2 linked regions of the Homo sapiens genome follow. The protein of the gene in region 2 purifies or fractionates together with the protein of the main gene of each other region. This does not show direct contact. Each region holds a gene or a part of one and is shown on either strand. Other genes may lie near its edges.

Evidence for each region. The genes of interacting proteins can lie anywhere in the genome.
Region 1: the proteins of FAT1 (region 2) and NUB1 purify together in Homo sapiens (affinity purification with western blotting, with the first as the bait; one study listed by BioGRID). This does not show direct contact.

Annotation. Positions count from the first base shown.
Region 1 is NC_000007.14:151,375,881-151,378,949, reverse strand, and holds the end of NUB1 (NEDD8 ultimate buster 1), read right to left. Parts: coding exon 3,007-3,069; exon of another isoform or gene 2,317-3,006; coding exon 2,139-2,316; exon of another isoform or gene 1,904-2,138; coding exon 1,725-1,903; 3' UTR 501-1,724; downstream 1-500. UniProt on the Homo sapiens protein: Specific down-regulator of the NEDD8 conjugation system. Recruits NEDD8, UBD, and their conjugates to the proteasome for degradation. Isoform 1 promotes the degradation of NEDD8 more efficiently than isoform 2.
Region 2 is NC_000004.12:186,713,857-186,717,356, reverse strand, and holds part of FAT1 (protocadherin Fat 1 isoform 1 precursor), read left to right. Parts: intron 1-3,500.

The sequences.
Region 1 (3,069 bases), on a different chromosome or scaffold from region 2:
GCGCATGCCCAGAACTGCCTCCACAGCCGGCTTCCTCTGCGGCTCTCTCTTCACAAGACACGGAAGAGTTTTGGGGCCTGCTGGTGTGGCATTGCTTCTATGATGGCTAAAAACAGCTGGGAAGCTAGAAGACACGCCTGAACCAAGCGCAGGACAGCGATTTGTTAGCCAAAAGCTTAAATTCAGGCCCCAAATCCAAGTGTGGCATTGTGTCAAATGAGGCTGAGACTCCGCGTCACCTCAGCTCACCAGGCACTTCTGAGGCAAACCCTGACAGGTACATTTCAGTCCCCTGCCCAGGATGCACCCCAGCCCCGCTTGGCGTGCGGCATCTTTCACAGCAGATGCCCTCTGCTTCTGAGATCATCCTTCCATCATCTCCTCACAAAACTCAGTGGAAACAGACATCCTGCAATCAAAATGAAGAGCTAGTCACCCAGACACTTTCAACACCTACAGCTGGGGAGGCTGAGTAAATTAATGCAAAATTAGGGTGACAATTTTTGAATATATTTCCCACCTTTTATTTCCATCGGTATCATCCGTTTAAAAAGAATGACAAGAAGATTCCCATCAGTCCAAACTGGACCACCCACACTTTGAAAAAGTTGGAGCATTTCAGCCGGCTCCGCATGATCCATCCTGTCTTCAGTCAGTGCCTTCTGGAAGGGAGGGAAAGTCTTGGATGCACCTGGCACTCAATCCACTCGGCACCTGGCTGCTGCTGTGGTCCTGGGGCTGGAAGGAACTCCCACTGGGCACACATCTACAGAGGAGTGCGTGGCGCAGTGAGGACGGTTACTGCTGGAGCCGACACACAGCGAACTACATACTTTTAGAAAGAGCCTCTGTCACATGGCTAGAACAACAACAACAACAAAGAAAACCCACAAAAAACCTGGAGAAAATATATCTAAATCTCTGATAGGTCTCTTAGCTAGCAGTGAGTTCAGTATGACAGCACAGAGTCTAAAAATATTAATTAAAAATAAATTGCTTTGGTTAGCATTTAAACCTTTCCCATTCAATAGAAGATTTCTGTAATGAGGAATGCTGAATATATATAAAGCCTGACACTCAATCTTGAATTTCGGGGGCGTATTTTACTGAACTAAGAGCATAAAACACTGGCGTCCCAGGCTGAAGCCATTTGCTGCGACCTGGTGTGGCCCCCAAGGCCAGCGCCTCATCGTTATGCCCCACAGCACTTGGAAGGAAGACTTAAAGGACGATTTGAGGGGCGGGGAAAGGGTGGCACAGGAACCCATGTGGCACCCTGGCAGAGATGGCAGCGTGGGAAGCAGGAAGGTCAGGGCAGTGGGTGCAGGAGGCAGGCAAGCTGGGCAGATGGAGCCACAGCTGGAGAGGAAGCGGTCGGGACACCCTTCCCAGGACCCTGCCCTGGACACCTTCCCCAGGACCCCTGTTCTACAGGACCCCTGTTCCTTCCTGTTTCGGGGTAAAACACCAAGCTGGGGAAGGGGTTAGGGACGCAGACCTGGGAGGCAGATGGAACGGCCTGCGCCAGGCCAGAGGAAGCTTCTTCCCCGAGACCACGCATGAAGGCCCTGGGACCCCTCCTGGACTTGTCCCCTGCCCACCCCCTCCTACACCCAAAGAGGACTTGTAATTCAGATAAAAAGTAAGAACAGAAAGAGCTGCATTAGCCTTTTCATAATGATAGCATTTATAAGCAGAAAATTAGCGCTATTTCTGTTCATTATTTAGTTTTTCTTTGTTGCTGACTTCCTATTTTCTACATAGGATAGGTACTCTGCAATAATAATTTCTTCATCTTCCAGAGTTGAGTCAAGATAGTCTTCCTCATGCTCTGGAATGTCTTCCAGTATCTCATTGACGGCCTCTGTCTCCATGTCTTCGTCTGTTGAGGCACTAGAGGTTCCTACAATAAAATACCGCAGGAGTAAGTGAATTATGTGAGGATTGTCCTGGGGACACTGCACGACCACAGTCAACCTCAGACTGTGCCTCTTGCTGGCCACACTGTCCAGGTGGCCGGCCCGGTGACGTCAGGGGACGCCCCCTCAGTCTCCACATCTGCCGTGGCTTAGGGCCACATCTGTTGGCTTCTGAAGACACTTTGCTCTCAATGCGGCCCTCAAAGACCTCAGACCTACCTGCGGAGTCAGAAGGGGACGTGGCTGGCGGGGACAAAGAGTCTTCTGGCGACAGCGGCAGCTCGGGAGGCAGGCTTCCTCCGTTGTGAGCAAGGGTCTGGGCGGCCAGCTGGACGTTGCCTCTGAACACTCTCAGCGCAGCTTCGGCCACGAGTGCATCAAAACCCATGTACACCAACTAGGGGAGAGCGCAGGGGTCACAGCATCAGCCCCTGGCGCCTCTTCTGCCACCCCCGTCAGCCATACGAGTGGACAGCCGACTCTCATGTTTAAGAGCTCCCGGCGTGTGCACCATGGCCCTTTGTGCACAAGTCATGCTTCTGTGCAATGTGAGCGTAGAGCAACCTGGAAGGGGGCTTGGAAGACTCAAGTCGGGTGCGTCAGGGAGCAGCCATCTCAGGACAGGCAGTGACCTCGGGCTGAGAGCAGGGCGCCACACCAGCCTCACCACGAGCACCGCGAGGTCAGTGGCCACAGCATACAGGCGTGCTAACGCGTGTAGGGGCACAAATGTGGACAGAGCCGTCACTTGGGATACAAAGCTGGATGGGTTTCCCAGGTCACAGTGCCATCCTTTTAGGTCACAGGCAGAGAAATGAGGCTGATGCAAACAGTGGTGCATAGACAAAGGCAGCAAACCTAAAGAGAACTTCCTGACACTTCCCCAGTTTTCCTGCTTTCCAAGGAGGCCTCCCCTGCCCTCTGTTACTGCGTGGGTGGCCTCTGAGGTGGGCAGGTTACACCTGGAGCCTGGGAGCCAAGGTTTCAGCACGGACTCCCCCAGTCCTGCTGCCTGATTCACCCGGGTTACCCCAAGCAACCCCACCCGAGGCTGTCCAAGCTGAGGGCACAAAGGCCTGTCACTCACTCGGTCAATGTTTTCCTGGGAAGGACTTTCTTGACGGTTGTCGGTTTCAGGATTGGAATCATT
Region 2 (3,500 bases):
CTAAGGCTGCTGCTCAATTTCTAGGGTCACAGCTTCCTCCGTTCATGCTGAAAATCATATGAAGATGGGTTGAAAAGAATTAGTGTACACCCAGAAAATAAACAGGATCTACTCATTAGTATTTCAGTGTAAGGATGAAAGCTTTTAAAAGTACCGACATGGCTATGATAATTGAACTAGAAAAATAGAGAGTTTTTTTTTTCCTGTTGTAAATTTTATTTGGAATGTCTGAAATTTTAGAAATCATTCAACATTCTTTTTAATATACAGTATTTTTAAAAAGCCATTTACGCTGGGTGCGGTGGCTCATGCCTGTAATCCCAGCACTTTGGGAGGCTGAGGTGGGTGGATGACTTGCAGCCAGGAATTCGAGATTAGCCTGGCCGTCTCTACTAAAATACAAAAGTTAGCTGGTCATGGTGGTGCATGCCTGTATTCCTAGCTACTCAGGAGGCTGAGGCATGAGAATCGCTTGAACCCAGAAGGCAGAGGTTGCAGTGAGCCACGATTGCACCGCTGTGCTCCAGTCTAGGTGACAGAACAAGACTGTCTCCAAAACAAACAAACAAACAAAAAAACTCGTTTACAATTCATAATCTCTTGACAACTTCATGATCCTGCTTTGAAAATGTGTTTGCCGGCCAGGCCCAGTGGCTCACAACTGTAATCCCAACATTTTGGGAGGTCCAGGCAGGTCGATCAGTTGAGCTCAGGAGTTCGAGACCAGCCTGGGCAACATGGTGAAACCCCATCTCTACAAAAATACAAAAAATTAGCTGGGCATGGTGGTACGCCCAGGTACCCCGGAGGCGGAGGCGGGAGGATCACTTGAGCCTGGAAGGTTGGTGCTGCAGTGAGCTATGATGGTGCCACTGCTCTCCAGCCTGGGAGATAGAGCAAGACCCTGTCTCGGGGGAAGAAAGATGCTTGCAATTTAGAGATCTCTTAAAAATACTTTAAAAATGTGACACTGAACTGAACTCGAAATTCCAAATTTTAATCATGAGTTAAATTCTACTGACGCTTTCACTATGTTGATAGAAAATGAGAGTGGAGAAGAGCACAGTGAGGGAGAACACAGAGTTCTCAACTTAATAATTTTGTGTTTTTATCATAACATGTGAAATGAAAAGTTTAATAATGTCCTGTTCCATAAAGGCTAGAATGACTACTTGTGCTTGTAAGAATTGTGACCGCTCAGTAATAAATATGCGGCGTTTAACAGAATTGGTGCATTGTGTGATGCTGTGTCTCACCTAATGTCCTGTCTCTGTGGCGTGTGAAACCCTTCGAAGACTTGAGCTTGAGGTCATCTAAACACTTGAATATATGCAGTTAGGTTTTCAGCACAGGGGCTGTGTTCTGTTTTGTGAAGAATGTGCAGTCACAGTAATTGATGGAAGCATTTTACATGAAGGTCTCCCTAATGAAGAAATATGAAGATATTAATATCTGATTTTTACTGCAAAAGTTATTTTTCTGCCGTATTTATAGATTTTCAGAGATCTATGCTAAAGATATTTAAGCTTTAGACTGGGAGCCCTTCTCCTTCAAGGCTAGACTAAGTAAACACTCTTTGTTTTGGCTTCGGAAAATGCATTTTAGAAATCCCAAATTGCAGTGAGTTTAAGTAGTGTGATCACCTTCTAAATATCAAAGTATAGCCCTTGGCTCAGATGGTCTTTGGAGTTTAATTTCCATAAGCAAAGGAGTCTAGGCGATAAGGTCCTTTTTAGATGAAATGGTGTTGGAGTCTCTCCCCGCTTCAGCTTTACTGTTTGTTTTGCATGAGAGCCACAGCCATTGTTTTGATCAGGGTGGTTTTTATAGTGAAACCTGAATTCGTGGTTCTTGGTTACATTACTGCACGGTTAACAATGTCTTCCAAAAAGTGTATTTTTTCATTTAATAATTTATTCTACTCACAGTAGCATTCTGTTAGCCAAGTTTGCAGAGTACATTCAGGTTTTTCAAAGATTTCAGTTAGGAATGTGGTCCACAAGTCCGTCCCAGCTGTATTGTGTCCCGTGAGAACTGCTGAGTAGGATGTGGAAGGTAATTGCATGTTTGGGAATCCAGTTGGGGATGAGTGGGTGGTGGTGGGGGCTGTGGTGGGACTGAGCACCTGGGACAGCATGGGGAGAGAACAGCCAAAGCAGTCTGACGTGTTGGCCATGGTCTGTGTGTCTTAGGGGATGGAACAGTGCCAGAGCCTTCTGGTGGGGGGATGGAGGGGGAAGCAGCGTGGCGCATCAGCAAGTACTTTTTTTTTTGTTTTTGAGACAGAGTCTTGCTCTGTCACCTAGGCTGGAGTGCAGTGGTGCGATCTCAGCTCAGTGCAACCTCCGTCTCCCTTGTTCACGCGATTCTCCTGCCTCTGCCTCCCAAGTAGCTGGGACTACAGGCGCACACCACCGCACCCAGCTACTTTTTGTATTTTTAGTAGAGACAGGGTTTCACCATGTTGGCCAGGATGGTCTCGGTCTCTTGACCTCGTGATCCGCCTGCCTCGGCCTCCCGAAGTGCTGGGATTACAGGCGTGAGCCACCGCGCCCAGCTGGATTAGTGAGTATTTATATTATATAGAACTCCAAGTTCTAATGTTAGGCTTCAGCTGTAGAAAAATCTTTATTTACTCACTGTTTCTTATCACACCACTATGCTGTGGTTCCCTTTCCTCCCTCAGTGGCCGACATCTCCCCTGTCAGGGCCTCCCGTTTGGACCCTTCAAATCTTGGGGTTCTGCTCTTGGATTTTTTTTTTCTTCTGCCTGCTCTCTTCCTTGGTGATCTCATTCAGTTCTGTGGTTTTAAATACCGTCTTTCATATTTAGACAACTCTCAAATTTCTATCTGCCGGCTGGAGTCTCCCACATATCTGCTGCCCACTCACAATCTTTACTTGGATAGCCCGTAGCTGTTCCCATCTTACCCTGTCCAAAACTGACCTCCCGATCTGCTCCCTGAGGCTGCTTCTCCTCCTGTCTCCCTCTCGGTTCCTGGCCCCCTTGTTCTCTACGCTGAGCAGTCTTTGGCATCTTCTCTGGTACTGTTCTCTCCTCCTTTCCCTCCCTCTCCCCACTCCAGCATCAGGCAACCTTGAAATAGATTCACAATCTGCCCCCCACCCCCGTTGTGCCCCAGCCCACACGCGCTCCACCTGTGTTGTGGCTGCAGCCTCTGACTGCTCTGGTCGCCCTCCAGCTTCTGCCCTGGCTGCCCACAGGTTTTTCCATTTTACTGAGACCGTGGCACTCCTCGGTTCAGAATCCGCTGGGGGACTTCTCATTTGATTCATACTAAACTCTAAAGTCCTAAAAATTGTCCTTTATCCATGAGTCCAGACGGATCTTGAGAAAAAAAAAGATTCAGGTTGGATGCAGTGGCTCACACCTGTAATCCTAGCAGTTCGGGAGGCCGAGTTGGGCAGATCGCTTGAGCCTGGGTGTTTGAGACCAGCCTGGGCAACGTGGTGAAACCCCGTCTCTATAAAAAATACAA